4 linked regions of the Homo sapiens genome follow. The protein of the gene in region 1 purifies or fractionates together with the protein of each later gene. This does not show direct contact. Each region holds a gene or a part of one and is shown on either strand. Other genes may lie near its edges.

The links. The genes of interacting proteins can lie anywhere in the genome.
Region 2: the proteins of MTMR2 (region 1) and XPNPEP1 fractionate together in Homo sapiens (co-fractionation; one large-scale study listed by BioGRID). This does not show direct contact.
Region 3: the proteins of MTMR2 (region 1) and SMU1 purify together in Homo sapiens (affinity purification with mass spectrometry, with the first as the bait; one large-scale study listed by BioGRID). This does not show direct contact.
Region 4: the proteins of MTMR2 (region 1) and MPP3 purify together in Homo sapiens (affinity purification with mass spectrometry, with the first as the bait; one large-scale study listed by BioGRID). This does not show direct contact.

The regions. Positions count from the first base shown.
Region 1 is NC_000011.10:95,847,608-95,851,107, forward strand, and holds part of MTMR2 (phosphatidylinositol-3,5-bisphosphate 3-phosphatase MTMR2), read right to left. Parts: intron 3,143-3,500; coding exon 2,993-3,142; intron 2,256-2,992; coding exon 2,067-2,255; intron 293-2,066; coding exon 107-292; intron 1-106. UniProt on the Homo sapiens protein: Lipid phosphatase that specifically dephosphorylates the D-3 position of phosphatidylinositol 3-phosphate and phosphatidylinositol 3,5-bisphosphate, generating phosphatidylinositol and phosphatidylinositol 5-phosphate.
Region 2 is NC_000010.11:109,868,012-109,871,511, forward strand, and holds part of XPNPEP1 (xaa-Pro aminopeptidase 1), read right to left. Parts: intron 2,894-3,500; coding exon 2,720-2,893; intron 2,019-2,719; coding exon 1,942-2,018; intron 702-1,941; coding exon 603-701; intron 1-602. UniProt on the Homo sapiens protein: Metalloaminopeptidase that catalyzes the removal of a penultimate prolyl residue from the N-termini of peptides, such as Arg-Pro-Pro. Contributes to the degradation of bradykinin.
Region 3 is NC_000009.12:33,066,675-33,070,174, forward strand, and holds part of SMU1 (WD40 repeat-containing protein SMU1), read right to left. Parts: intron 2,261-3,500; coding exon 2,150-2,260; intron 1-2,149. UniProt on the Homo sapiens protein: Involved in pre-mRNA splicing as a component of the spliceosome. Regulates alternative splicing of the HSPG2 pre-mRNA. Required for normal accumulation of IK.
Region 4 is NC_000017.11:43,826,647-43,830,146, forward strand, and holds part of MPP3 (MAGUK p55 subfamily member 3), read right to left. Parts: intron 3,486-3,500; coding exon of another isoform or gene 3,462-3,485; coding exon 3,381-3,461; intron 3,146-3,380; coding exon 3,008-3,145; intron 1,187-3,007; coding exon 1,105-1,186; intron 1-1,104. UniProt on the Homo sapiens protein: Participates in cell spreading through the phosphoinositide-3-kinase (PI3K) pathway by connecting CADM1 to DLG1 and the regulatory subunit of phosphoinositide-3-kinase (PI3K). Stabilizes HTR2C at the plasma membrane and prevents its desensitization.

The DNA.
Region 1 (3,500 bases):
TTGTTTAGAAAGGTACCTTCATGTTGATTGCAATTATAAGTAAAAAGCTAATATAAACAAAGGGGTAGAGAGAGTCTTTGTTTGGGATATAGTAACACACACCCACCTTAATATGTTCTAGCCAATGAGTAGATTCCAAGTTAGACAACCAGTGGGTTTCCTCAATGTTGGGGTACACAATCTCCTTAAGTTTTCGTAATGATTCTCTCATAACATGAATATTGTGGATATCCAGGAAAACTAGTTCAGCATTTTGATAGGCATCTTCACTTTCATAACCTCCACCCTTTGCCTGGAAAAAAGCACACATCATGGAAAATCATAAATGAATGCACATCTGTAAACAAGTGACATAAAATATCCAATAGCATAAAAGATGATACATATTACTGGAGACAAGGAAAACTCCACAGGAAAATGTGGATGGCTCAGGACAACTTATTTAGCACAACCACTCGCTTTCTTGTGTTCTTCTTTACAAAATGAATATATACGTAGTCTGACTTGCCCATATGGCCATTATTAAAATTAAATATGAAACACATAGGAAGGTATTTAAACACTGTAAAGCACTAAATTTTCCCAGCCCATACGCCAAGTCCTACCCAAACATAAGTTCTTACAGATGACTTCCTTTCATATATACTGAAATTACCAGACTGTAAGTTTCATGTGCTGAGACCACATGTCTGGTTCACCTATGCTTCTTCACCTCCCTGCCTCTTCACCTCATTTTAATCTTCATATCTGAGAAATAAACTCTTTGCAATCAAAATGACCTGCTTCTTTTTTAACCACATAATTCTCTTTAAATAAAAAGACAGAACAAGGATAAAAGCACAGAATGCTATCATCATCAATGTTCTCAAAGACTTAAATCTACATCTACAAAATAGAATGAGAAAATATTTGGTGTTCAAAATAAGCTATGGCTAGAAAGAAGAACCTTATTTTTCTGGACTTAATCTTTTTATATTTCATGAATAAAATATTCTATCTCCTACCTAACTCGTGTAAAATTATACTTCTTAGAGCCCTAATAGAAACAAATTAGGAAAATACTGGAGCAGTAAATTATACAAAATTAAGTGATTATATGACCCACACCTTTGAAACAACAAAACCACCAACTCATAACCAGCAACAAACTACTGAAAGAACAGAAGTTCAGCTTCCTTTCTGACACTGAGAGTCTGGGAAATCGTTTGGCACAATTATAGAATTTACAGTATTTCAAGGGATACCTGTTAAAGATTACTTCTGAAGAGTGGGAATAAGACAGGAACTTTCAATTCAAATTTGTTGCAACATTCTAGAAAGACAGCAGTGGTAACAACTATACAGAACCTGTCACCGAAACACATAGAATAAAAATGCCCTGGATTCAGGTAGTGGCATGGTTGTACAACTTTGTGAATATACTAAAAGCACTGAAATGTACACTTGAAAAGATGAGCGCTTTTCAGTAATGGTACCTGCTGCTGTAGTTATGTCTTCTCTCTCCTTCCCTCCTCCTATAGATTTGGTCAACTGAACCAAAATTTCAATTTCCACAATGCTAATATTTATTCTGCTGGAACAATCAGCTACAGCTAACTGCCAATTCTTCAGTCTGAATAACTTGTTCAGGTGGAGGACGGTCAGAAGAGGGCACCACTAGTCACCGAGAACACTAGTTCGCTATTCCTAGAGCAGTACTATACAGGGACTTCAGTGAGTCATAAGCTCAGTTAGTTGTCAACTTTGGAGAAGTGGGAAGCTAAGAATAACTGAACACCTAGTTATTATGTAAGTAAGCAAAAGTTTATGCATTATTTTTTATTAAATGATTTTTGCTCCCAAAACAACACTGTTAACTATTATTATTCTCATTTTTACCAATAAACAAATTGAGGTCTAAAGAGGTTAAATAACTAACTCAAAATCACACCATCAAGTTGAAGAGCCAAGACAAGAACCTATATGTTTACCACTGTAGAGCCTGAGCTCTTTTTACTACACTGTGGCCCTGCCAAACTCAGCTGATTCATGAAACCATAATTATAATTACTAAGAGACCATCTGACCTTGTTGGCAACAGCATTAACACTTGGCCGGGCATCAAATATAAAGATTTTGTGAGACTGGGCATTGGAATCCATGATAGCTTGAAGGTATTTTTCATCTTCTTTGCTTCGCTTTCCACTCACTCCAACCATGGGCTGGCTACACCGAGTGATTGTGGCTTGACTTTCAGGATGAATCCATGATAAAACCTTAATGAGGAAAAAATGGTAACACACCTTTTACATACTTCTCTGTTTATAATTCTCAAAAACAGTACTCAGTAAAGCTCTGCTTTCTAATTGGATCCAAAGCCTGGCCATGAAAGGACATCTGAGGCTGCTAAGAAAAATCATCACCTTTCCTTCAAGCCAATTCTGGGATGTGGAAAACTTGGTCTAATTCTTTAGTCAGATACTGATTTAGGAAAGTATTTGATTATTGGGAAATGTTATCTCCTGAAAAAAATACTGTGAAACAGGGCTAAGTAAACCCCACTTAATATATTAGTAAAACTGCTCAGTTCTAAAAGCCTTTAGAATCTATGAATTTTGTACCTAAAATTATTTAAGCTCATCTTTCTAAGATCCAGTTATAAATCTGTAAGGTGTTCTTTCTAGGACTTAAAAAAAAAAAAGAACATTTATCATCATGACTAAAGAATATACAATAAGATAAATAAATAGTGACTAATACACACAGCAAACTTTTTCAGTGAAGAATCATGCAATTCTGTGCAGTTATCTAATACCCATATCACACTCTCTGGAAGCCTCTTTAAGTCTTTCTTCCAGTTTTAACTTTACTAAATAAATCAATCTCCAATATCCCCATGAAAGACCTGCTGCTGTAGCTATTTATATCCTGAATCCATTCTCCTACTCATTAATCTCAGCATTATGTTGAGTAAAAAAGCACTTGCAAAGGCTCATCCAAACTTCCTACTTACTGGGATACGGCCTCTTGATCTGAAGGATGCCACTCTCTTTAATTCTTCATCAGGAATATTTGCTGGCACAACCAGGAGGGCAGGGTATGTATCACAAAGTTCATATCGTTCATTTATCTTTGTTATTCTCCAGCTTTCATTTGGAATTCCCTACATGTGAAATGAAACATAAGACAAATTACTATATAACTAAAATATTAAACGACACCAGGACAGAAGCCATCCTGTTCAATCTCTCTGACCTCTACTATCCATCTCCTAAAGTGTTGGGATAGTTGTTGTCAGCCTGTGGTATCAGGCTTTCAGGATTAGATATTCTAATGTAGGGATACGTATTCATTTGTGGAACCCAATTTGATGTTAATATAACAGACATTAATTCACTAAATATTCAGTGTGGACCTGTGCTAAGCATATTCAGGAGGTGGAAGGAAACAGTAAGACTTCAAATATTCCTTTTTTTTTTTTTTTTTTTTTTTTTGAGACAGAGTCTCACTCTGTCGCCCAG
Region 2 (3,500 bases), on another chromosome or scaffold:
GAGTTAAGACCCATAACCCTCTGAGCTGGGCAAGTAAGCACTGTTGTGCCCCAGGCTTTGTGAAGGGTTTCACTGCCCCAGAGTGACCACAGTAGTAACCGAGAAGGGCTGGTACTATCTTTCTCCTTGTCTGTGTGAAAACAGGACATACGATAATAGATTTTGCTTTCCATTTCCTTAATGTTTCATGTAACACAAGAAAACAATCTGGTATGTACAGTGGCCAAGAGGCCCCACCATCCATCTGGCTTTTTGTAGGGACACACATAGGCTCATATTTGCTAAACACGCCTCACTGCAGCTATGGAGGAATAGTACAGCCAAACAATGGCATACGAGTTCCACCCACAAACCCTACAGCCCCAGAATGGCTGCGGGAAACAGGACTATCTCCACCTGGAGGCCCAACAAATACAGGAAAAGCTCAGGAGTCCTCAGAAAACCTAGGGCTTTCAGACTCAACTGGCCTAGACCTCTAAATTTAAAAATTACAAAGTGAGACTGGATTAGAGAATTTAGGATTTAGAGGATGGATTAGAACTATTTAAGGTAGTCTCCACCTCCCCTAGTAACATGCCTGCCCACCAAGACTTCCCCATTACCTCTTTGTCTGTAAGAGAATCCACATCTATCATTTTGGTCTGAATTGGAACCAATGTTAGAGGTTCAAAGGTCAGGCTTCCCCGGTTATTAAAATTATACTGCGGGAGAAAGAAGAAAACAGATGCTTTTACTCCTCTTTACTATGCTGAAGCACCATGAGGTCATTCCACCAGCATGCCATCCCTCAGAGCCAGGGGTAACTGGGAGCCAAGAAGTGGTGAGCTGGTCACCACTTTTCACAGACACACAAGGAACCTGATGCCATTTTCCAAGAGCTCCTCCACTGGGCAAACAATGGCCTGTGCCATCAGGAAAGGCCAAACAAAGGGTGCTGAGGGGCTCCCAGCAACAGGTCCCAAGGCTAATGTCTACTGTGATAGGAAACAGGGGCAGGATATGGGGGTATCTGGGCTTAGGGGCATCTCTGGTTTTGGTTCTCCAGGATGCAGGGGTGTAAGTCCTCAAAATCATTTTTATAACAGTCAACTGTGTGGTCTGCCTTGACCCAGCCAGGCCCATCAGGCGACAACACATCTATCCACTGGAGCACACAAGAACATGTCGGGTTTCTGTTCATGGCAGCTTTTGGGAATAAGATGGGAGGTCACTTCCAAGAATAGTGACTTCCATGCCAAAGCAGAGAGCAGATCCCCGCAGTTAACCTCCTTGTAGACACAGGAAGCTACTTCCCTCCAATTGTTCAATTCCACCAATGGAGGAGGCACAAACAGGTCTTTTAGGTAAAGCCTAGAGCCTAAAACCCTGCAACCTTGGTAACACTGATGGGGGAAGAGGGTGAAACACCTGTCTTGTATTGCCTTTGAGGCTGACCCATGGATAACTCAGGGTTCCTCAACTTTACCTAATAAAAGTCACCTGGGGAGTGTGACAAAATTACAGCTTCCAGGCCCCCCACCCTGGAAATTCTAGGGTCTGGGAGGGGCCCTGGAAATTAGCGCCTTGAATAGGCACCCCTAGCAGAAGAGACAACAGGCCGCCTATAGTAAACTCAGAGCCCCAAATCATGTGAAGCAAGCATCAGCCTGAGGGTCTGTGAATCCCAGTTCTAGATCCCAGTTCATTAAGGATTTTCTTTCTGGCTTTGCAGGGAAGGAGTGTGGTTTCCAGGAAAGTCCCTGATATCTGGAGAAGAAGGCTCCATGTTGGCCCCAGAATGGCATACTCTTGGCTCCAAAGACATTAAGTCTTCATCTTCCCACACTAAGAAACAGGAAAATTTTTAAGCTTTGCGCAGTGGCAGTATTGTAGCCAATGAGGTCTATCCGAGGCGTGATTATTGCTAATAGAAACAGGAAAATTTTTTTAATAAATCCTCACCTTGGTCTTCACAGGAACCACAAGGACAACATTCTCAATGCGAATTCCAAAAGCCCCATCTTCATAGTACCCGGGCTCTAAAACAAACCAAATCCCAAAAATGAGAAGCAGCCCACGATGAAGATGTCTACAGAGAGAAACTTTCACTCCTTGGATGACTGCCCTACTCCAAAGGAGAAGAAACGGGTGAAGAGCCCACTCTATCTGGTGTAAGAGCCTAGAGATGCCACCTTCTCTCATATGGCCACTTTTTTATAGGCACTTGAGGTGCAGAAAGCTAGACTCTGAAGTCCCTGCACACTGGCTACAGGGTAAGGAGTAAAGTAACAGTGGATCCACTAAATAAATCATGGTTCACATCCGTAAGACACAATAATGAAGGCATTAAAATATATTTACAAAGACTTGGCAATGACCTGAGAAAAGGCAATGTATCAAGTAAGAAAGCAGAACATAAGACAAGATGCCCAGTAAGATCTCAATGATTTAAAAAAAAAATGCTATCTACATACCTGAAAGACCAAAAGCTAATACAGTAAAACACTAAGTCATGTTTCCCCTGAGTGGTTAGATTGCAAATGATTTTCATTTTCTTTTTACACAGTTCCCATCTCATTTTTTCTAAAATGAACATGTATCAGTTCTATAATCAGAAAAGTTTGTTGGAAGGGAAAAGTATTGCCAATTTACTTTAAACTAATTAAAAAATACAAAACAACGAATAGCTTTCAAAAAGGCTCAAGGATCCACGCATGCCCTCTATGTGAGGGACACTTACCATCAGTGACAATCATGCCTGCCTCCAAGGGCTCATCAGAGAATGTTTTGTAACTGATGCCGCAAGGACCCTCATGGACATTCAAAAAAGACCCAACACCATGTCCAGTCCCGTGCAAGTAATCTAGGCCTGAATCCCATAAAGCTGAACGGGCAAAGGAGTCAAGAAGGTGACCTGAAAGACATAAAGAGCCACTTAATTGTATTTGTACAGCGCTTTAGAGATTAAATTTATTATGTGTGGCTCCAGAACGTGAAACAGAAACCAATAGGTAAGTTACTGGAGGGTTCAGATTTCAGCACAGCACAAGGAAGAACTTTCTAACAATCAGAGCTCCTGAGAAACCATCAGAGCTCAGTCTGAAGCTAGGCGATCATCCATTCAGGATGCTGGTGAGCGGGGATAGACACCTACAGCACACAGAGGCCGTATCAGACATGGACGTTCCCTTGCCAGCTCTGCGACCCTAAGGTTTCAGAATTACAAAGATGAGACTCTAACCAGACTGCAAGCAGACAGGCAGGCATGACAGATGAGGAAACTGAGGCCTAGGGAGATGAGTACATGTCTAATCTACCCAAAAGCAAGGCAGCCCAGGTCTTGTCAATGCCCAGTCCAATGCTCCACCCACCAGGCCTCAAGCAAAGTAGTACATAGCTGAAGTCAGGGTCCCAGTAAAATAAATCCTAAGAATCCCGAAAGGAAGCACTGGCCCAGTACTAAAGGGCAGACAGGAGGCTGCACCAACTTCCACTCAGGCCCTGTGACCTTCATATCTGGT
Region 3 (3,500 bases), on another chromosome or scaffold:
GGGCACCTGTGGTCCCAGCTACTCGGGAGGCTGAGGCAGGAGAATTGCTCGAACCCAGAAGGCGGAGGTTGCAGTGAGCCAAGATCGTGCCACTGCACTCCAGCCTGGCGACAGAGTGAGACTCTGTCTCAAAAAAAAAAAGAAAACTGAGGAATCTATAAATAAGACCTACCAAAAAAATAAGAGACCCAAAATTCCCAGTATGAAGATGAGAGAAGTCCTGGTACAGTAACTGTGCAGCAATGCAAGAGAACTAGTCCTGATGGGAACAAAAAGAGAAGGGCCTCAGGAAAGATATCAGCAAGCGGAAAAAAAAGGACTTTTGACGGTTCTACTAGAAATACTCAGGCTGGACTAGCAGAAGTGCATAGAAAACTAGGCAAAAGAAAAAATAAGCAATAATTATTGCAAATCATAAAAATTTATGTAAGAAATTACATGTAATTATTTTTTAGCTGTGAACAATAGCTATATAAAAATAACTATGTAAACATTGAATATAGATTGAACCAAAAGTTGTGATACAGCTCTACTGAAAATCCAGAAGAAGAGTAAGTGTGTATTGAGGAGAGTGGGTATAAGACAAATCATTTTTCGCTGAAGAAAGTTAGTTGCTAATGACCAAAAAAAAAAAAAAAAAAAAAAAAAAATCAGGTAATAACAGTATAAACATGGTATTCAGCTATGGAGCTAAGTCAGGAAAGTTAAGAATCAGAGGTGGAGAAGGGAAGCACATGGGACTGTTTTTCACTGTAAGCCCTGAAGTACTACTTAAACGATGCACTGCTATTAGTTTGATTAAGAAATCAAAAAGCAGCTTACTTTTTTTTTTTTTTTTTTTGAGATGAAGTCTCGCTCTTGTCTCCCAGGCTGGAGTGCAATGGCTCAATCTCGGCTCACTGCAACCTCTGCCTCCTGGGTTCATGTGATTCTCCTGCCTCAGCCTCCCGAGTAGCTGAGATTACAGGTTCCTGCCACCACGCCCAGCTAATTTTTGTATTTTTAGTAGAGACGGGGTTTCACCATGTTGGCCAGGCTCATCTCGAGCCCCTGATCTCAGGTGATCCACCCACCTTGGCCTCCCAAAGTGCTGGGATTACAGGCATGGGCCACCACGCCAGGCCAAAAAGCAGCTTACTTTTGAATCTCAGAGTCACTGCAGGCCTGCAACAAATAGCTTTTTGGTCCTTTTCTAAATGCAGATTTAGTGCAAAAAGGTTATTAACATCCCTATTAATCACTTGTGCCCTTTGTTATTTATAATATATCTATTACTCTAAGTAGCTTTATAATAATGACCATGCTGGCAACACTATTAGTAATTTTTTAAAAAATCATCACCAGCAGCTACCATTTACTATTTACAAGGTGCCAGGAAATGTATAAAGTGTTTATGAACATTATTTCTCTTAATCCTTACTCTCAATACTGTGACGAGTAAATGGGACCAGAAAAGTTAAGTAATTTGCCAAGACTATATAGCTGGTAAATGAGAAAGCCTGGATTCTAACTAGGATGGGCATTTGTTCCAATCTTTCCAGGACAGTTACTATTTGCACTTGGTGTTCTGGCATAGGGATCAACTGTACTCTCAACGATATTCCAGACAGGATGATAAATTCTATGGTAACCCTAATTCTAACTGACTCCAGAGCTTGTTCTTAACCACTAATCTATATTGCCTCTCCCAGGAAAGAGGGAGAGTGGAACAGCACAGTTACTGGAATAAGCAACTCTGTAGGTAGTCCCCAATTCTTAGGGTGTACAATTTCTTCAGCTAAGACATAGTTTATACATAGGAAATTAGGAAATTGTACCAGGAGTTCACTTTTTAAATTTATTTTTATTTTTGGAGACAGGGTCTCACTCTGTTGCCCAAGCTGGAGTATAATGGCATGATCATAGCTGTCATCTCAATCTTCTGGGCTCCAGTGATTGTCCCACCTCAGCCTCCCAAGTAACTGAGACCACAGGCACACCCCACCATAACCCGCTAATTTTTTTACTTTTTGTAGAGACAGAGTCTCACAATGTTGCTTAGGCTGGTCTCCAACTACTAGGCTCAAGTGATTCTCCTGCCTCAGCCTCCCAAAGTGCAAGGATGACAGGTGTGAGCCACCACACCTGGCCTCTACAGGAATTGAATTACCTGTCCCAGCAATGCCATGAGACGAGATGGAGGCACCACACTGACTTCGCCAGCTAAGGCCTGGGCAATTGCTGCTCTTCTCTTTTCTTTGCTACTTCCATCTGGGTATGCCTGAAAAAGGAGAGGGTGTAGCATCATTTCCAAGAAGCAACAACAAGATATGAGTGTGCTTATTTAAAACAAACAAGCAGAAGCATACACAGAGGAAAATGTGAAAAGAAATTACCCAGTTAAAGAAGGGATTAGTTGAACTAATTTAGTTTTTGAAAATGACTTCCCAATTCTGCCCGCTTGCATTTCAAAAGTATGAGTTGGGAGAAAACTGAGGTCAGCCAATCCACACTATTATTATTTTTTCACTGAGTTCCTGGCCAAAGGACACACTGCTATTTTTCTGAAAAGAGTCCAAGTAAACCACATTAAACCCAGAGTTGTTCTTCCAGTTTTTGAAAAATTTGCAGAACCAAGAATTCTTTTATACTCTTTAGTAATTTCTTAAATGGCTCCCAGCACAGAAGTGCTTCACCACCTCTAAGTTAAATCCTGTCCTGGTAATCTAAAATCCTTTCCTTTATCCTCATAGATTTTGTAGGTTTACTCTAACATTCTATTATCCAGTGCCTATTAAGTTCTTCTTCCTCCTGAGAAAATACTTGCAAACTACCCATCTGACAAGGGATTAATAACCAGAATATGGCTGGGCAGGGTGGCTCACGCCTGTAATCCCAACATTTTCGGGGGCTGAGGCTGGCAGATCACCCGAGGTCAGGAGTTTGTGACCAGCCTGGCCAACATGGTGAAACTCTGTCGCTACTAAAAATAGAAAAACTAGCCAGGCCATAGTGGTGGGTGCCTGTAATCTCAGCTACTCGGGAGGCTGAGGCAGGAGAATTCCTGGAACCTGGGAGGTGGAGGTTGCAGTGAGCTAAGATCGTGCCATTGCACTCCAGCCGGGGAGACAACAGCAAGACTCTGTCTCAGAAAAATAAATAAACAAATAAATAAATAACCAGAATACAGGGCCAAGTGTGGTGGCTCATGCCTGTCATCCTAGCACTTTGGGAGGCCGAGGCGGGTGGACTGCTTGAGGCCAGGACTTCGAGACCAACCTGGCCAACATGGCGAAACCCCATCTCTACTGAAAACTCAAAAATTAGCTGAGTGTGGTGGCACACACCAGTAATCCCAGCTACTTGGTGGCTGAGGCACGAGAATTACTTGGACCCAGGAAGCGGAGGCTGCAGTGAGCCGAGATCACGCCACTGCACTCCAGCCTGGGTAACAGAGCTCTGTCTCAAAAACAACAACAACAACAACAACAAAACCCAGAATATATAAGGAGCTCAAACAA
Region 4 (3,500 bases), on another chromosome or scaffold:
CTCTTTGTAATAGTAGCTTGACAAGACCTGGGATGGTGGGGAAGGGTGTCAACCCTGTCCCACAGTTAGTAATCCCGCAAGCCCATGCTATATTCTTAACTGTCACAGTCCTTGGACTAAACCAACGCATGAGCTTTTTCTCAATCACCCCAAAGTACTCCATGACTATTTATATATATATATATTTTTTTTTTTTTTCTTTTTTTTTTGAGACGGTCTCACTGCGTCGCCCACTCTAGAGTGTAGTGGTGTAATCACGGCTCACTGCAACCTCAAACTCCTGGGCTCAAACAATCTTCCTGCCTGGGCCTCCCGAACAGCTAGGACTACAGGTGTGGGCCACCCGTGCATGGCCTATATTTTCTTTTTCTTTTTTTCTTTTTTTTGAGACGGAATTTCACTCTTGTTGCCCAGGCGGGAGCGCAATGGCGCGATCTCGGCTCACTGCAACCTCCACCTCCCAGATTCAAGCGATTCTCTTGCCTCAGCCTTCCCAAGTAGCTGTGATTATAGGCATGTGCCACCAAGCCTGGCTAATTTTGTATTTTTAGTAGAGATGGGGTTTCTCTGTGTGGGTCAGGCTGGTCTCGAACTCCCGACCTCAGGTGATCCGCCCACCTCGGCCTCCCAAAATGCTGGGATTACAGGCGTGAGCCACTGTGCCTGGCTTTTTTTTTTTTTTCTTTTTTTTTTTTTTTTGAGACAGAGTCTCACTCTGTTGCCCAGACTGGAGTGCAGCAGCATGATCTTGGCTCACTGCAACCTCCGCCTCCCAGGTTTGTGTGTTTAGTAGAAATGGGGTTTCGCCATGTTGGCTAGGCTGGTCTGGAACTCCTGGCTTCAAGTGATCCGCCTGCCTCGGCCTCTTAAAGTGCTGGGATTACAGGTGTGCACCACCATGCCCAGCTGGCCTATATTTTCTATTAAAATTTCTACTGACTTGGGAAGGAGATGAGAATTCCAGCCACAACCCCAGAAAGCAAAGCAAATCCCAAACAGGTGACCTGATAGGAGGGAGGTAAGGGGACCTATTAGCAAAGGTGGAGGGCTCTGGAACAATGGCCATGATCGGGGCTGGGCCAGCTTTGCACTGCCGCCACTCACCGCTCCTGTCTGCTGCGCCTCCTCGCATGATCCTGGCCACCACAACAGCCCCTGAGTGCTCGTCCCGCCGGATGGTGGCACCCTGAACCCGAGACAGAAGAGACAGGTTCTTAAGCAGCAGCTCCAAACCTCAGACCCCTACTCTCTGGACCCAACACAGCCTCCCCAGTCCCTCCCTCTGACAGTCCAGAGAGATCAGTGGGGACCTTCCCAATGCTGAAGACAAAACAAAACCAACATCCCCCATTAATATAGCCCTGCACTGTACAGTTTACAAGGCACAATAATGCTGCAACATTTTAGATGAGGGACTGGGGCTCAGAGAAGTTAAATATCCTCAAGGTCACCCAGCTGGTAAAGGGGAAAGCTTTTTGTGATGCCAAATCCAGTAAGTTCTCCATCACATCTCTCTCATATCACAGTTCCTACCACTTGCAAAGACATTTAATAATGAGGATGACACGTGCCAGCTAATTCTCACCCTGCCTCTACCCAATCACAGGGTTACCGGGCCTTCTGCTGCTGCTGAGGGAAACCAATTATGCACCCCAGCCAGGGCTTCGGGACCAGGACTTGGCCCATGAAGCACAGCAGAGATGACACTTAGGATGAGAAAGGCACTAACGAGCCCTCGATTTCCTGCACCACACAGGCCGGACTGCAGCAGGACGGCAGAAAGCTTAAGAGCTAAGCTCTAGGGCTGGACAGCCTTGGGTGTGAACACAGTTCTGCCGTTTACAAAAAGCATGTGGACTTAACAAGGAAATCTCTTATCCTCTCCAAGCCTGTTTCCTGTGAGATGTGGGACAGCATTTAACTCACAGTGTTGTTGCAAGGATTCCACTCAAGGCACTTAGTACACAGTAAGCACTCAACATATGTTAACCACTTATTAGTGGCTGTAACTGCAAACACATTTGCACACTTATTGTTAACATCATCTGTGCCATCTATTTGAAGTACGTAAGATAATTATTGCTAGAAAGAGAGGCCATCAGCTAAGAACCTCAGGACTTCTAGCCCCCCAGAACTGAGAACTTTCCAGCATCGCTATCCATCATTTATTCAGCTCTGAACCGCCAGCACCCAATACAGAGCCTGGATAGGAGGGCTCACAATGTGTTTGCTAAATCAATGGATGGCCACTCCATTTTACAAGTGAGGAAACAGAGGCAGAGGAGAGATCCTCGTCTGTTTGCAGAAGAGGCTCGTCGGAGGTCATTTGGGGAAAGTTGGAAATAGAGAATGCCAGCTGTGGGATCCTCTGGAGCCAATCTCAATTCTCTGGGCTTCCACCACTTCTGAGCATCTCATAAACAACGCTGTCCCTTTGCTCGGTAAATCAATGCTGAACCAGGACCAAAGTGATAGCAGTCTGTCTGCTGGGGAGAGGAATGCCCTGTGCTTCCTCAACATTCAGAGCAGGCATTGTCACACGTTTTCTATAAGGGGCCACATGTAAATATTTGAGGCCAGCCACACAGTCTCTGTCACAACGACTCAACTCTGCCATCGCACTATAAAGGCAGCCACAGCCAATCTGTAAGTGAATGGGCCTGGTTGTGCTCCAAAAAAGCTTTATTTTAAAAAATAAGCTGTGGGCTGGTTTTGGCCCTTGGGCTGTAGTTTGTCCATTTCTGGCTTAAAGCATGATCAGGGTCACCCTGTACAATTGTGCAGGTTATTAACTACACAAAGGGTGTTGGCCACAGTTGAGAGGGGCTGTATCCACCTAGAGAAAGGGGTGCCCTGCACACAGAGGCACCACAGGGATGAGCAGCAGCGCAGGCAAAGCTGCCGTCACTCACTCTGAAGACTTCGGGGAGGATCTTGTCCAGTGTTCTGGGTGGGGGTGAGAGGCAGGGGAAGAGTGGGTTAGAGAGGGGCAGGCAGCAGCACCTACCAGGGGTTCCTTGTTCTTCACCAAGCGGACGATCTTCACCGATTCCTCATCAAAATCCTCATCGATATTGTCAGGCAGAGGCGGGAGAACGGGGTCAAAATTCTTCTGGGCAACCGTGTCATGTACCATGAGCACAGCCTGCCGGGAAAGCCAGAGAAAAGGAAGGCTGGCCCGCCGCTCACAGGGTCAGCAGGCCGCAGCTGGCCGGTGGTATGGAGGGTGGCAGACGCCATGCCAGAGAGACAACTGCCCAGACACTAGTGCTGAGGATCGCTCCCTCAGTCTCCACTCCTCAGCCTCATTAGGAGAGCTCCCTCCGCCCCCATCCCAGGAGACCCAGAGGCATGGCTGGGCAGGGGCTCTGTGTGACTACCCTCAGGTGCGGGGTGGACAGCAGCTGGAGCAGCTCCCTCTCATCACTGTGCACGGAGGCGGCCTGCAACTCCTCCATCACCTGCAGAGAATGAGACAGGCGCCACTGATGGCTAGAGGT